Linked DNA regions of Homo sapiens: region 1 is linked to region 2. Evidence: fine-mapped expression QTL. A gene starts in region 2. The other region holds a variant in brackets. All regions are shown on one strand. Distances are between the middles of the regions.

Region 1 (8,000 bases), 41 kb after region 2:
AGCATGCTTTTTCTGGAAGCATAATTGAGCTTCTCGGGGAAGCCCCTGATGAAAAGTATTGTTGAGCTGCTTTTTGATGCCCCCAGGGATTTTCTAAATTATGGTTAGAATATATGGATGTGGTCAGAATATGAGGGCTTGGTTTCAGAACCAATGTGGAAGAATGTAGATTTCACTAATGACCCCATACACCTTGCAGAGGAAGGCGATAGGTGAAGAATCCATAGAGACAGTTAATAAACATGAATGACTCCAGTTTATGTGAATGTTTGAGGGACCCCAAACATTGCAAATAAGCTTGCAGTGATGAGGCCACATTCAAACTTGACCCATGGCCTAGGTAATGATCACCTTTGGTTACTCACCTGATACGTATTAGATGTAGATTTTGCCCATGTTCTTCTCCCAGGCATGCTTTCTTAGGACCACCCATTGGCATCTTAAGCAGAAGAACGAGGTAGAGCCTTCTGTCCTTGTCATGGGTGGCGCCATTTTCTCATGGGGCAGGGTTACTGTTCGCTTTCCTTCTTTGCCCTGCTTGAAGATGAGCTGCCATGTTTTAAATTCATCCGTGCACATCCAGTATTAACCAGACACTAAAATTGAGGAGCAAGAAAGAATATACACATTTTCACTTGGGACTGAAAAACAGCAAAGATTTTTCAAAAGAATCTCATACCCAAATGACACTACCAAAAAAGGAAGCAAACCTAAACCAATATGAGAGGAATCTGTGGGAAAACGCACAGCTGGGAGGCGCAGGAGACGCTGTTGAGCTGTGACTTGGCTCCGTGATCAGCCTGAGGGAATTGGATGTGTATGAAGAGAATATTAGGAAGAAGAACCCTGTAGATTCGTAAAAATACCCAAGCTTTTAACATACAGGGAGATTTTCAAGGTTAAGTTTTTCATATTGCCACTCATTTAAGCCAGTTAATAATGTATTCTGAGCAAATGGGAAGAGGTCTTTACTGAGTATCTACCATTATTGAAAAGGCAAGAAAGGATAAGGCCTCGTTCTTCCTTTCCAGGCTGCCTCCTCTTAGGGCAGGCTGTAATAGACAGACTGATAATAGAACAAAATAGGCTAATAGATTAGGAAGACTCTTTTTAGTCCCAAAGGCAGGGACACTCACTAGTCACCTGTTTAATCAGAAATATGGGCCTGATGTGGTGGCTCACGCCTGGTCTCCCAGCACTTTGGGAGGCCAAGGTGGGTGGATCGCTTGAGCCCAGGAGTTTGAGACCAGCCTGGGCAACATGGTGAAACTCTGTCTCTACTAAAAATAGGAGATAAAAATTAAAAAGTAGTCAGGCACAGTGGTATGCACCTGTAGTCTCAGCTACTTGGGAGGCTAGGGTGGAACGATCAGCTGATCCTGGGAGGTGAAGGTTGCAGTAAGCTGAGATCGCACTACTGCACTCCAGTCTTGGTGATAGAGCAAGACCCTGTCTCAAGAAAAAAAAAAGGAAATATGTATTGAATGTTCACTGGCTACCATTGTGTTGGGCGGGTGCTGTACAGGATGTGAAGGTGTGTGAGAAGCTTCTTGGCTCTCAAAGCTTTATTTTTTTTGAGACAGTCTTGCTCTGTTGCCCAGGCTGGAGTGCAGTGGTGTGATCTCAGCTCACTGCAACCTTCGCCTCAGAGGTTCAAGTGATTCTTCTGCCTCAGCCTCCTGAGTAACTGGGATTACAGGCATGCACCACCATGCCCAGCTAATTTTTTGTACTTTTAGTGGAGACGGGGTTTCACCATGTTGGCCAGGCTGGTCTCGAACTCCTGGCCTCAGGTGATCCACCCGCCTTGGCCTCCCAACGTGCTGGGATTCCAGGTGTGAGCCACCACACCCGGCCCTCTCAAAGCTTTTCTAGATGTGGTCTCGAACATTTACTACACTTGTTTTCTTCTTGCACATCTCTGTGTCTGCATTCTATTTCCCCAGAAGCTGTATTGTCCTTCTGCTCTCACTGTATCTCCCCACCCCTCTGGCTGTCTGTGTAGGACAGATGTGACTAAAGAGAATAAGGGGCTTTCTCTGAGCCCAATGCATGGGAGCTACTTCTTTAAATTGTTTGGAGACCATATTTAAGTCTCACACATTCTTTATGGTAAAAACATTGCATATTACATATCTAAATGATAGCATTATTGGATGTCTATTGATTGATAGATTTCATTCATTATTGAGCAACTCCTGGGAACTGGGAAAAAGCATCAGAAACGGATTCCCTGCCCCTCTAGTCAAGAGAAAGTATGCACCAACTTCTTCTTTCACCTAGGTGTTAATCAGAACCGCCTGTGTGTTATTTGAAGCTTCTTCCTTGGCTGTTTCCAAGAAAGGCAATTGGTCTACCCTTTATAGAGCCCTCACTACTATCAGAACCCCAGGCCTACTGCAGCTGAGGCCCCCACCCCCGGATCTAGCAATTCAATGGGAGAGGAGGAGAAAAGCTGAGGCTGAACCGGGGGTTAAACCTTTTATTCTGCCGTGCACAACGTCTGGTTGCAGGGCGGGGGGAAGGCGCCTTCGTGGGAATGAGACTTCTTGGCTCCAGGACTGTGAGTGACACATAGCAGGACACAGGGAGCTACAGGACTTCTGTGGACTCTGCCCCACAGCTGATGCAGGAGAGGGGCTTGCCCTGTCTCTCCTGGTTTCTCTGCTAAATCCAGGCCTGGGGACACAGACATACTTCTCTGTCTGATCTTGTCCCTAAAGACCCCTGGCAGAAATTAGCATCCTACAAGGTGGTGCCGGCCAGGAGCCGGAGATTAGGCTGCGCCTCAAAGCATCCCACCCCCGGGTCTGGTGGGAGGGAGGAGTTCACTTCCACCTTTACCCTGTCCCCAGAGCGCCCTCTCGTGCACACCACAAGACCTCCGGGAGGGGCTGAGTGAGTGGCAGTGGAGACAGGGATGTGGGTGACTCATTCATTCTTGAGTCCACACATTCTTTCAGTGACTATTTATAGTGCCTTATTGTATATGAGGCTCTGTTCTCAGCACCTGATAACAACAGCGAATGTCCACGGAGCCGACCACCCAGTACAGAAGACAGACCCTTAACATTCTCACACAGATCCTGATTGAAATGCCTCTTTTTGAAACTGTGATGAACAACTCCCCTGGGGCAGTGACATTTAAGAAGAAGCTGGAAAGATGAGAAGGGTTTGGCTAGGCGGGCTGGTACAGAGGGGAGTGTCCAAGAGAGAGAACATTGTGTACAGAGTCCCTAAGGTGGGAAGAAACTTGCCCCATTGGAGAAGCAGTGGGGAGGGAGGGGAGCAGGTGGAGCTTGATTCTGCTGATCTGGGTAAAGTGGGGTGCTGTGGCGGCACCGGGAAGCTTGAATAAGGGGAGGTATGATAAAGAGGTCAGAGTGCGACTTGGCCTGGACCTAACTGGGAGAACAACCAGGACTGGGGCTGACCGTGGGACAGGCAGGCAGGAGGGTGCTGGTGTGAGCCCTGGCCTGGAAGTGAACCTCGGGCTAGGCTGCAAGGGACTTGAGGTGGGGCAGCCAGGAGGGAGATGGACAAACAGCTGGGCCCTGTGGAGCACAGAGCTGAGTGAGAGCAGGTGAGGGTATGGAGGGTGTCGTGCTGCAGGCCAGGCCCTGGGCCAAGCGGTATCCCTCCCTGTGCCATTTGTTCTCTGC[C/T]ACAACCCCAGGAGGTTGTGTTTCTCTTTGGATTTTACAGGCCGGGCAGTGAGGCTTAAGAGAGGTGAGTCATTTGACAAAGGTTGAAGGTAAAGAAGCTACGAGCCAGTGGGAGGATTCTGAGAGGTCCTTTAAAGCAGAGTGTAGATTTGTAGAAAGGTGGAAAGGAGTGGGTGTTTAAGTGTGGAAAGGTCAGTGCCTGGCTATTGCATGGGAGCCAGTGCCACAGGGAGGAGTGGCAGTGACAGGTGCATGGTAGAGGGGAAGGCGATGTCTGGGACATCAGCCAGTGACAGTGATGAGGACCGGAGGGGGTGCATGACCAGGTGGTGTGGTTTACAGTGACCTCCATCGTGCAGATGGGGCAGCCTGTTCCCCACATCTCCTCTGCCACAGAGGTTCACCCTGGTCCCTAAAGCAGGGCTGCAAAGGTAAGGGGGACGCATTTCATGTCACAGTCTTCTCATGTATAACCATCTATTTGGGGACAACTTCTTTCTCTGTGCAGGTTCTGTGTGCACCACCCGCACCAAGACGGGAGTGGGGTACCCCCAGCTGAGTGCCGTCATTGAGTGTGCCGACTCTGCCCATGGCCTGAAGGGCCACATCATCTCTGTGAGTCTCCACCCGGGGCTGAGGCTGGGGTGTCTTGGGAGGCCCCTGCTCCCTCGCTGCTCTTCTTTCACTGGCTGGGCATCCTGTGGGCATGGGAGGGAGCTGGGCACTGCGGTCACAGCGCTGACATTCAGCAGAAACAGAGGCCCTGCTGCCCACGGATTCCACAGTGAGGGTGGCAGGCCCAGTAGGCAGAAGCCATACAAGCAGGTGGGTGGTCCATCTGATGAGGGATGTGCAGGCAGCTTTCAGAGCACAGGGTAGGCCAGGCCACAGCTTGCTAGAACAGTTGTAATAAAGCCCCACAGACTGGGGGCTTCAATTTCAGTGTCTCACCATTCTGGAGACGAGAAGCCCAACATCAGGGTGTTGGGGGGGGCATGCTCCCTCTCAGGGCCCCAGGGAAGGATCTGTTGCAGGCCTCTCTGTGACCTTCTGCTGGTTCCTTAGCTTGTGGCGTCCTCTGTGTGTGTGTCTCTGTGTGCAAACATCCCCTTTTCCTGAGGATACTAGTCCTTTCAGATCAGGGGCCACCCTCCTCCAGGATGTCCGCATCTTAACTGATGACGTGTCCATTGTTCCTGTTTCCAAATAAGGTCACATTCTGAGATGCTAGGGGTTAGGATGGCAACATGCGAGTTTTTGGGGGGACCCAGTTCAACCCATAACAGGCCACGTATCCCATATTCAGGGTCAGGGAAGGTTTCCTGGAGTGTAATAGAGAGAGCTGATGGTTGAAAAGGAAGTTTTCAGATGAGAAGAAAGAAGGGAACAGAAAAGCACTGGGGAACCAAATCTCAGTCACTGCATCTGGGGCGAGTGACCTGAGAGGGGCAGGCGTGAGGGGCAGCAGGAGATAAGCTTGAGGGCAAGTATGGACAAGAGCTGTGGGATCCACCTTTAAGGATGGGACTTCTCCAAGAGCACTAGGGAGCTATTGCAGAGGTCTGAGTAGGAGAGTGCCCAACTCACTGCCTTGGGTCAGATTGAAAGGGGCAAAATAAAAAAGAGAGCCCAGCTGGGACGCGTTAGTAATTCAGGAGGGGGAGGTGACTGTGCTCTGCAGCAGGCTTGAGAGCCATCTCCAGAATTGACTGACATTTGGGAGGCAGAATTAAACAAGTGTCGGCAATGGAGTAGGTGCTTGGGGGGCACTGGAGAAGGAGAAGGAGGAGCAAGGCTGTGGCTGGCTCATGTGCTGGCTCACCTGGAAGATGGCTGCAAAGGAAGAGGTTCGGGGCTGGTGTGGTGATCACTATGGCACGTGTCTGTTGATTCTGAGGTGCTTGAGGGGCATCAGAAGGGAAATTGCACATGAGGCATTGTGTTCATAGTTGGAGACCTGGCAGCTTTTAGCCCATAGATGATGAAAGTCTTGGGAATGGTGCTCAGGTAACAACTGAAGCTAGGATCAAGGTCTTTCACTCGCTGTCCAGTGCAGATTGCCTGGGCCCCTTCTAATGCCTCATCCAAATTTTTCACCCACCCATCCATTCATCCAGCAAGTCTCTATTAAGCATCTACTGTGATAGTATCTGAAATAAATGGTCAAAGGTTTATTGGTTAATGACAGAGTTCTAAGACTCTCCACTCAATACCCTTTGCCCCAGTGAACAAATTAATATCCATTTATTGAGCAACTAGTGTGTAAAAGGCTGACATAGAACTGTCGGTCTACATTTGCTAAGAGGTTATTCAACTCACGGGAGCGGCCAGGCAGTAGTACCATTCCGCAGTATGTCAGTGGTTCTCAAATCCTGAGTGCAGCCTTGTCTGAGTCTGGCTGCGTGAGGATCACCAGAGAGGCTTTTACAAATCAACATTCCGGGACCCCATCCTAGTGAACTGGCTCTTTCAGAGGTTAGTCCCCAAAATCCCCATATGTAATTAGTCCTGTCTCCATTACCTAATAATGTTAACCATTGAGCATCTCCATCAAGTCAAAACTTGGACCCTATATCGTAAGTGTTGAATGACCACTATTTCCAAAGTAGTGGAGTTCTGATTAATAAAGTTTTACTCTGAACATATTCTGAGATCCTTATGTCTTTCTAGAAACTTCAAACTTGCTTAGTTTACAGGGCTGTTTGGCCAAAGATTGGTGGTAGGCAGGGTGGGGTGGAGGCTCTGTGTGCCCCAGAGGTGAATCTGATTGGAAATCAACTTAGCATCTCTTTACACAGCACCACCTAATTTATAGTGTATCTCAGCAGTTCTCTTAAGCGTGGTGCCCAGACCAGCAGCAGCAGTATCAACTGAGAACTTGTTACAAATTCTTGGGCCCCACCATCGACGTGACCTACAGAATCAGAACTCTGCAGGTGAGGCCCAGGAACCTGTTTAAACACGAGCCCTCCAGGTAGTTCTGATGTCCTCTCAAGTGTGAGACCCACTGGCTTATAGAGTAGAGGCTCAGCATACGCTGGCGGGGTGAGTGTTCCTGAACCAGGTCTCATCTGCTGGTGCCCAAGGCAGCAACTTCTCTGAATTTAACAGTTAGGGACAATGACATCCCAAGCCTGGGGCACTGGTGCAATAGGAAGGTAGCACTTCTGATCTTGCTTGTGTTCTCTGAGGTTCTTTTTTTTCTTTTTAGTTTTTACTTTTTTATTTTATTTATTTTTTATTTTTTTGAGATGGAGTCTTGCTGTATCGCCCAGGCTGGAGTGCAGTGGCATGATCTCAGCTCCCTGCTAGAATGCCTCCCGGGTTCAAGCGATTCTCCTGCCTCAGCCTCCCGAGTAGCTGGGATTACAGGCACGCGCCACCACGCTCAGCCCATTTTTTTTTTGTATTTTTAGTAGAGGCAGGGTTTCACCATGCTGGCCAGGCTGGTCTCGAACTCCTGACCTCATGATCCGCCCGCCTCAGCCTCCCAAAGTGCTGGGATTACAGGCGTAAGCCACCGTGCCCGGCCTCCGAGTTTCCTTTTACGTCAATGCTGAGAGGTCTCCTAGATGGGGTTAGGAGTTCCATTTAGCTGGAAAAGCAAATGAATGGACTTAGTAGAATTTGGACCTTTGCCCTCAGCTCAGTCCTTGTAAGCAGCTGAGTGTCTTGAGGTTCAGAGCAGCCATTGCCCCCACACTCCCTTTGTCTAACAGGGCACGGGCACGTTTCTGTCACTTGCCAGTAGCCCTGAACCTGCTAGAAACCCACCAGGTGTTTTGGATCCTGCCACTTGGTCCAATTTCCTTCCAGCTGTCCCATTTTACCCTTTATTTGCTGAATTAGCACACTGGTGCCATTGAAGTTCAAAGGAAGCCACAACATGGTGTCTGTTGAGCATGTACTGATACCCAAGAGGCTGGGCTTCAGTCGTGTTTCTGTTGTGGCCCACATGGGCTTCAGAGAGGCAGAGGGAGGAAAAATTCAGGATACTTCCTGCATAGGTGAAGATTAAGGTGGGACCAGTTAATTTTTTGTTATCACACCATTATTTAGAAATACCTAAACAAATTCATTCAAATAATTAATCTTTTTTTTTGAGTCTGGAAAATTTTCCCAGCAAAATGTGTTTAACCTAGGAAAAGTTAGAAATGCAAATAAACATAAAAAGGAAAATAAGTATTAGCAGTAATGCTATCATCTTAAGATAACCACTGGTTCTAAACTTGTTTTTCCATTTTTATAGCTGTGTGACCTTAGGAGAGTTGCTTAACCTTTCTGAGCCTCTTTCCACCGTCCCCGCCGTCTACGCAATATCTCCTTCAGGTTCATGAG
Region 2 (9,053 bases):
TTCCTGCCCCAAGAGACAAGCAAATTGAATTTATATCTACTTTCTCTGCAAAAATTGAGCTGGAAAAGCGAGGCATTATTCTCAGTGTGTATTGTCCATCAGGGATGGCAAATTTAAACAACTGTTTATGTGCCAGGAGGGTCGAGTCAGGTTTATGCATTAGAGATCACCCATCCACCCCATCTAAAGAGACAACATTGATTCACTCTAGCAGATGGCAGACCTCTGAGGGGATGAACACCCTGCTAGGCCTCCCAGTTTTTAAAAGTAAGCTGGCTGGCCAGGTGCGGAGGCTCACACCTGTAATCCCAGCACTTTGGGAGGCCGAGGCAGGCGGATCACGAGGTCAAGAGATCAAGACCATCCTGGCCAACATGGTGAAACCCCGTCTCTACTAAAAATACAAAAATTAGCCGGGCATGGTGGAGCACACCTGTAGTTCCAGCTACTCCAGAGGCTGAGGCAGGAAAATCATTTGAGCCCGAGAGGTGGAGGTTGTAGTGTAGGTTGTCTATTCATGCCCTTAGCCCACTTTTTGCAATTGTGAATTGTGCTGCTATAAACGTGTGTGCAAATATCTTTTTCGAATAATTTATTTTCCTCTGGGTAGATATCTAGTAGTGGGATTGCTGGATCAAATAGTAGTTCTGCTTTTAATTATTTAAGGAATCTCCACACTGTTTTCCATAGTGGTTGTACTAGTTTATATTCCCACCAGCAGTGTAGAAGTGTTTCATGTTCACCGCATCCACACCAACATCTATTGTTTTTTTTTTTTTTTTCATTTTTCTTTTTAGGATGGAGTCTGACTCTGTCACCCAGGCTGAAGTGCAGTGACGTGATCTCTGCTCACTGTAACCTCTGCCTTCCGGGTTCAAGCAATTCTTCTGCCTCAGCCTCCCGAGTAGCTGAGACTACAGGCACGTGCCACCACGCCCGGCTAATTTTTGTATTTTTAGTAGAGATGGGGTTTCACTGTGTTAGCCAGGATGGTCTGGATCCACCTGCCTTGGCCTTCCAAAGTGCTGGGATTACAGGTGCAAGCCACCGTGCCCAGCCACCAACACCTAATGTTTTTTGATTTTTTGAGTATGGCCATTCTTGCAGGAATAAGGTGGTACCGCATTGTGGTTTTGATTTGCATTTCCCCCATCATTAGTGATGTTAAGCATTTTTTTGTGTGTTCGTTGTCCATTTGTATATCTTCTTTTGAGAATTGTCTATTCATGCCCTTAGCCCACTTTTTGATGGGATTGTCTTTTTCTTACTGATTTGTTTGAGTTTGTTGTAGATTCTGGATGTTAGTCCATTGTCAGATGTATAGATTGTGAATTTTCTCCCACTCTGTGGGTTGTCGGTTTACTCTGCTCACTGTTCCCTTTGCCATGCTCTTTAGTTTAATTAGGTCCCAGCTATTTATCTTTTTTTTTTATTGCATTTGCTTTGGGTTCTTGGTCACGAAATCCTTGCCAATGTCTAGAAGGGTTTTTCCAATGTTATCTTCTATAATTTTTATAGTTTCAGGTCTTAGGTTTAAGTTCTTAATCCACCTTCTTCTTCTTTTTTTGAGATGGAGTCTCACACTGTCGCCCAGGCTGGAGTGCAGTGGCCCAATCTCGGCTCACTGCAAACTCCATCTCCCGGGTTCAAGCAATTCTCCCACCTCAGCTTCCCGAGTACCTGGGACTACAGACCGGTGTCACCATGCCCAGCTAATTTTTGTATTTTTAGTGGGGACAGGGTTGCACCATGTTGGCCAGGCTAGTCTCAAACTCCTGACCTCAGATGATCTGCCTGCCTCAGCCTCCCTAAGTGTTGGGATTACAGGCATGAGCCACCTCACCCGGCCCCTTAATCCATGTTGAGTTGATTTTTGTATAAGGTGAGAGATGAGGATCCAGTTTCATTCTCCTACATGTGACTAGCCAATTATCCCAGCACCATTTGTTGAAAAGGGTGTCCTTTTTCCACTTCATGTTTTAGTTTGCTTTGTTGAAGATCAATTGGCTGTAGGTATGTAGGTTTATTTCTGGGTTCTTTATTGTTTTCCGCTGGTCTATGTGCCCATTTTTATACCAGTACCAGCACCATGCTGTTTTGGTGACTATGGCCTTATAGTATAGTTTGAAATCAGGTAGTGTGATGCCTCCAGATTTGCTCTTATCCCTTAATATTAAATACTATAATTCTGAATTATCAAAAAGCCTTTAATACTTAACTTTATTTCTGGGTTTTGAGAGATACTTATTTACTAAAAATAAACCATTTTATCACTTCACATAATTTTAGTTCACTGGTTAATTCTATTAAATATTTAAAGAACTAATCCCAAGCCTACACAAGCTCTTTCAGAAAACAGAGCGTGGAACATTTCCCAACTAATTCTATGAGGCCACTATTACCCTGATAAAGGCATCAAAAGAAAAGAAAACTACAGAGTAATGTCCCTTATAAGCTCAGATGCACAAATCCTTAACAAAATATTAGCAAATAGGATCCATCAATACAAAAAAGGATTATGCACTGTGACCAAGTGGAATTTATCCCACATAATTTTGGAGGTTATCTTCCCATGTAATTTTGGGGATAACCCTCCCCTCCCATAATAAAATGTTAATAAATTGAACTCTGGATATCACTTATGGCTTTGTCTAGACAGTGAAAACTTTAACATAAAGTCATTGTACTGATGGGAAACTATTATTGTTGTATTAGAGTAATGAGAAGCAGAGGATGTTGAAAGGAGTCTCAGTTGGTGTGGGAGTGGAACTGCCCTATGTGTTCTTCTTGCCTGCTGCATAGATAGAGCCAATTTACTGAGACAGCATTACTGCAATACAGAAAGAGTTTAATAAATGCAGAGCCAGCTAACAGGAGACTGGAGTTTTATTGCTCAAATCAGTCTCCCCAAAAATTCAGAGACCAGGCTTTTTTAAGGATAATTTGGTGGGCAGGAACTAGGGAGTGGGGAATGCTGATTGGTCAGGTAAGGGATGAAATAATAGGCTGTTGAAGTGGGTTTTCCTTGCTGTCTTCCGTTTCCGAGTGGGATCACAGAACTAGCTGAGCCAGTTTACTGGTCAGGGTGGTGCCAGCTGGTCCATCAGAATGGGGGGACTGACTGAAACATATCTCTAACACCAATCTTAGGTTTTCAATAGTGATGTTATTCATAGGAGCAACTGGGGAGGTTGGGAATCTTATGGCCTCTGGCTACATGATGCCTGAGCCATGATTTGTAATCTGTAGCTACTTTGTTAGTTTTACAAAGGTGCGCTGGTCCCCAAGCCAGGAGGGGGTTTGTTTTGGGAACGTGCTGTTCTCATCTTTGTTTCAAAGTTAAACTATAAACTCAATTCCTCCCATAGTTAGTTCAACCTACACCCAGGAATGAACAAGGACACCTTGGCGGTTAAAAGCAAGATGGAGTCAGTTAGGTCAGATTTCTTTCACTGTTGTCATTTTCCTATGTCAGATTTTTCTCACTGTCATAATTTTTGCAAAGCCGGTTTTAGAAGAATCAGGGACTCAGGCTGACTCTAACAGGAGTATGATTTTGTGTCAGAGAAGAGGGCAGTTATAGAGGAATGTTCCAGAGGGAGAGGGAATGGAATGTGTAAAATGAACTTCTCTGTCTATTCTAATAAAAGGAGGGCTAGCCAGAAAGAAAGAGAACCAGAGGGAAAGAGCAAGGACAACCTACAGAAGCTTCTCCTTTAAGACCATGTATGAAACAATGAATAAAGCCCTCATCCACGCTGGCAGATGCTTAACAAGGTCAGTTTCTCTTCCCTTTAAGGATAATAATTTAAAAATAATCATACCATCTAGTAATTATATTTTACCTCTATTTAATCTTTAAAAGATCAGAATTAGGTTTCCTTTCCGTACTTCACAAATAAGCAGCACATCTGGCCAGCTCCCAAGAATTCGTCAAGGGTTATAAACATTGCATGGGCTGGACTAATTGTGGCTACTTTCATTCTCTCTGATAAGTTTCATTTCCTTCCCTGAAACTTCATGAACTTCCTTTGGGGTATAGCTAATGAAACCATGTGGGATGGGCTGAGACCTTTATCATCTTCAGACATTTGTGTTAAATTGAATATTGTGATGTATCTTTTATGGTCAGCCTTATCACATGCTAGCTCAAGGAGAACAGTTGCTAGCTCAGTTCGAGGCTGCAGAAAAATGGAAGAGAATGAAAGATGATTCTTGCCTTTGTGCAGTTAGCATTCTAGTTTGAAAATACAAACACAATGCACATAATGTAACATGTGACTACAAATCTGTAACTACCATGCATTGAGCAACTACTATGGGACAGACATTGTGCTTACATAAACACACACACTTTAATTCTCACAAAAACCAGGGAGGAGATAGGGTTAACCCCCCCTCCTGCCCCCACCCCTTTTATGAGAAAACTGAGACTTAGAGAAATTGACTCCCCTAAGGTCACCTAGCTAGACAGTGGTGGAACCAGGTTTCAAACTCAGGCAGAGATGTTCCAGGACAAAAGCAGCTTCAGTGAATAGTTGTAGCAAGTTTTAAGGACTGAGAAATTTATATTGAATTTTTCTGCGGCCTTAGGCAAGTTATTTCATTTATAGAAGCCTCGTTTTTCCTTATCTGTGAAATGGCTCTTTCTTCATTGGGTTGTTCTGAGAGTGAATGAGATGATGCATGAAGCCCGGCAGCACATTTCAAATGTATAATAAAAGGTCGGTAAGGTCAATAAGTGAATCAATGAACTCACATCACTGGTAACCCCTCGAACTCACATCACTGGTAACCCTCAGAGGGGACTCAGGCTCCTCAAATCTCAGGATCTGCGTCGACTACAGACCTCACTGTTTTTCTTAAACAAAAATCCTGAAATCCAGGCTGGGCGCAGTGGCTCACGCCAGTAGTCCCAACACTGGGAAGCTGAGGCGGGAGGATTGCTTGAACCCAGTAGTTCAAGACCAGCCTGGGCAACACAGTGAGACCTTGTCTCTTAACAACAAGTCCAAAGGGAATCATGGCCTCCACAATCCCAGTACAGCTAAACAGTTAACTGCCCACGTTCTTTTCCTTAATTCTATACAACCTCCCTGGGGTTTCTGGTTCTTTGGCAAGTGAGAGACGTGCTCCTCAACACTGGGTGAGCACACCGGGCTTGAATTTTAAAAAAGGAGAATCCGCCGGGCACGGTGGCTCACGCCTGTAATCCCAGCACTTTGGGAGGCCGAGGCAGGCGGATCACTTGAGGTCAGGGGCTCGAGACCAGCTTGGGCAATATGGTGAAACCCCGCCTCTAGGAAATAATTTTTAAAATAAGCTGGGTGTGGCGGCGTGCGCCTGTACTCGAGGAGGCTGAGGCATGAGAATCGTTTGAGCCCAGGAAGTCGAGGCTGCGATGAGCGGCGATAGCGCCACTCACTCCAGCCTGAGCGACAGTGAGACTGTCTCAAAAAAAAAAAAAAAAAAGTAAAAGCTCTCAGGGAGCGACTTTTCCCTTGGATAAGGCAGCCACACGCTAAGTCCCCTCTCCATCGGGGACCCTGGGGACAAACAGAACGGTGCGCATTTCCCTCCCCCGTCCCCATTCGGTCACTGCCACGGGCTGTACACCTGAGGGGGAAGGACGGGGGCGGCGGCGCGAGGAGGAAGGGCTTCGCCGCCAATCTGTCCCTAACCAGTCTGCCTCTCAACCCCTGCCTGAGGCGGAGGCGGTGCCCGGGGCGGGCCAAGCGTGACCGCGGGTCGGCGGGGCGTGTTTAAGACCGCGGCGTGCGCACCCGGCCCACGCCAGCTCCCGGCCGCGGCACAGCAGCCCCGGCGCTCCCCGCGCCGCCCCGCGCAGGCGCCCCCGCCCCGCCGTCGCCGCCGCCGCAGCCAGGAGCCGCTGCACCATGCCCCGCATAGATGCGGACCTCAAGCTCGACTTCAAGGATGTCCTGCTCCGACCTAAGCGGAGCAGCCTCAAGAGCCGAGCCGAGGTGGGGGACGTTCGGAAGTCGCAGTGGGGTGGGATTTTTTTTTCCGGGTGGCGCGGGGCAAGTGGGTGGAAGGGGGTGGCACCGGGTTACCCTGCCTGCTTTGGTGTTTGAGACTGGGGCGCTGCGCCCCCGTTCCCGCGCCCCAGCACCTGCCAGGACGTGAGGTGTCTTTAAGGGCGGTGATACGGGGGCCCATGAAATTCTCTACACGTCGGTCCCGTTGGGTGGCCTAGGGGAAGTTCACAGTGAAACTCGACCACAGATGAGCGAGATCCAGTGGCCAGTTGGTTTAGAAGGAATAGGGGTACGAGGGCGCTTATAGCAAGAAAAGGAAACTGGAGCTAGGGGAGAGAGGACGAGAAAAACAACTGCAGATCCCGGTGATTTTTGGCTGCGTCTCCTAGTGCTGATAATTGCTGCTGCTTTCGCTTCGGGTCCAGCGGTGGAACTTCGTGAACGCGTCTGAAAAACCAGAACCCAGGGCACAAGTTCAGGGTTTCCTTTCTGAGTTTGGCGGCCTTGCTGGCAGTGGGGCTTGGGGACTCAGCGGTACTGGACAGCCCGCGGTCCCAGCCTAGCCCTGGAGAAGAGTTTCGAAAGCTTTGGGGTGAGAGAGGTGGGGGCGAATTGGAAGCCTCGGGCATTTCCCTGGTTCTGCCTGGATGTCCTCAAATCCTAAGGAACAGGTGGAGACCGGACTGGAAATAGCCTGAGGCTGGGGGAAGGGAGGCCAGTCCCTGAAGGATAAACTAGTTGCCTGAAAGGCAGAGTGCCCCGGGGTGGTGTGCGCTGGTGACTGGCTTTGCTGAGAGCTGGAGAGGAAGGTGAGGAAACCGGACACGGTTGAAGGCTGGGGCTGAAGGAGTAAACACGAGGAGGCTGGGCCAACCTGCACAGCTCCGTCCACTCAGCTCCACAAACAAGACCATAAATAAATCCCCTCAGCAAAGAAGTCCGCTGCCCACTCCGGTGCCAGGCCTAACTGCAGTGCCTGGGGCTGCCAGCCGAGGGCTTGCTTGGATTGGGGAAGCCTCCGCGTTAGCCAATGACTAAACCAAGTGGCCTTCTGTAAGCAGCAGCATTGGCTGGTTTGGAGCCCGGCAGGACTGGAGGACGTAGGGGAGGAATGATTAAAACTTATCGCCCCAGATTGGGTGACCCTGTGCCTGTCCCTCATGACCTTTCAGGTGCTAAAGAGGGGGCCTCTCTTGGAACAAAAACAGTTTGGAGGGCAGGCCTGGGCCTCTGGAAGCATGAGCTGTAGCCAATTCCTAAGGCAAGACCAAGATGAAATAGGGGGATTCTGGATGTGCTAATAATTTGGTGGCCTCAATATTCTTTAAATATTCAAAATGTATTTAGAAGAGAGAAACTCATTTTTCAGAAAATTGGATGTTCAAAACAAAGATATACCTATTTTCTGAACCAGAAAACATGTTGAGAAGGTAAAATATTGAACATTAATGTAATAGGGCCAGGCACAGTAGCTCACACCTGTAATCCCAGCACTTTAGGAACCTGAGGTGGAAGGATTGCTTGAGGCCAGGAGTTCGAGGCCAGCCTAGGCAACAAAGCAAGACCTCAGCTCTACAAAAATTTAAAAAATCAGCCAGGGCAGTTGTGCACACCTCTAGTCCCAGCTATTTGGAAGGCTGAGGCGGGAGGATGGCTTGAGCCCACGAGCTGGAGATTACAACAAAAATTTAAAAAATTAGGGCAGTGGTGCTCACCTGTAGTCCCAGCTACTTGGAAGGCTGAGGCGGGAGGATGGCTTGAGCCCAGGAGCTGGAGGTTACAGTGAGCTATGATGGTGCCACTGCACTTCAGCCTGGACAACCCTGTCTCTAAAGCTAAAATGAAATTTATGTAATAGAATGAATTACTCCTTCTCGGGGAATACTATCACATCATGCGACAATGTCATGCAACACTTGGCTTCATAATTTGGGCAGATTGTAACTAATGTTCCAGTTTGGGATAGCATCTTTGCAATCTTCATGTACACATTGCAGTGAGAACTCAGTGCCCTTGAGGAGTCTCTTTTGTATTTTTATGTTCGTGGGAGTTTGCCAGCCACGGGCCTGGAGACTCAGGTTAACCAGCATTGCCTTTCTAATCGGTTGCCGTGATGGTTTAGCTCCCTGATGCGTGAGGCTGCTGCCTGGCTGGCCACCCCCATGATCTGACTTTACTTGCCTCGGTGGCGTTGAGGGATCTAGTTAGGCCTCCCTAATCCCCTCTCAATGTTTTCTCAGTTTGCTTGTTGATGCCTGAAATTTTTCACAGGCAGATAAAAACTTTTCCTTGCACAATCAGAAGCTTAAAATATGTGCATCCTGGCAGAAGTAATATCTGGAGGCAAATTGGAAACTGAAGGGTAGATGACCGACATTGAGCCTAACAGCAGATTTGTACAGAGCCAGGAAAGAGAACGTACACCCTGGGAGTAGAGTCTGGCTGAGGGAGGAGGGTTTTGACAGCTGATGATGGGCTTATCCTCGTGACAGTTTTGCTAAGAGCCAGGCCCAGCAATGGATCATCAGGCTATAGCAGGAAACGGACAGTAAGAGTGATCTCCCCCTCAGAAGCTTCAGGACTCCTGCAAGGACATTTCCACCAGCCTTCCATAAATGAACATGAATGAGATGAATCTGAGGTCACCTCTGAGAGGCAAAGAATACAGGTAGCAGTGGCCCAGGTGGCCTTCGCCTGGATTCTCCAGGGAGGCATTCATCTCTCAAATGTCCAGCCCCTGGCATGGAAGAATAAAGCGCCACAGGGTCATGTGGGGACATTTGGATAATCTTTTTCTGAGAAGTGATGAGTTTGTGGATTGAGACAAGACCTTTGTTTTCATCTGTTACGCTGGGGAGCCTGCATTCTCCCTGAGTGTTTTCTTCCTTAGTACCCATTTCTGGCTCTAACATTCTACTCTAGTCCTTAAGCTAGTAAGAATGTACTTATTTATTTATTTATTTAGAGACGGAGTCTCACTCTGTCACCCAGGCTGGAGTGCAGTGGTGTGATCTTGGCTCGCTGCAACCTCCGCCTCCTGGGTTCAAGCGATTC

Evidence for each region. PIP is the estimated chance that this variant, and not a neighbour inherited with it, causes the effect. A credible set is the group of variants that fine-mapping cannot tell apart.
Region 1: its variant is the best candidate, but not a certain one, in a credible set for the expression of GMPR in whole blood (TOPMed, PIP 0.78).

The regions. Positions count from the first base shown.
Region 1 is chr6:16,274,614-16,282,613 of GRCh38, forward strand. It overlaps GMPR (guanosine monophosphate reductase), which reads left to right. Exons shown (of 9, transcript NM_006877.4): 6 at 4,171-4,277. Among named protein-coding and RNA genes, the nearest start is that of GMPR, 40 kb to the left of the region's middle. RefSeq lists an enhancer at 2,705-2,999. The variant C/T (reference allele first, on the strand shown) is at 3,663.
Region 2 is chr6:16,232,797-16,241,849 of GRCh38, forward strand. It overlaps GMPR (guanosine monophosphate reductase), which reads left to right and starts at 5,791. Exons shown (of 9, transcript NM_006877.4): 1 at 5,791-5,984. The coding sequence starts at 5,898. RefSeq lists silencers at 5,574-5,673, 5,794-5,893.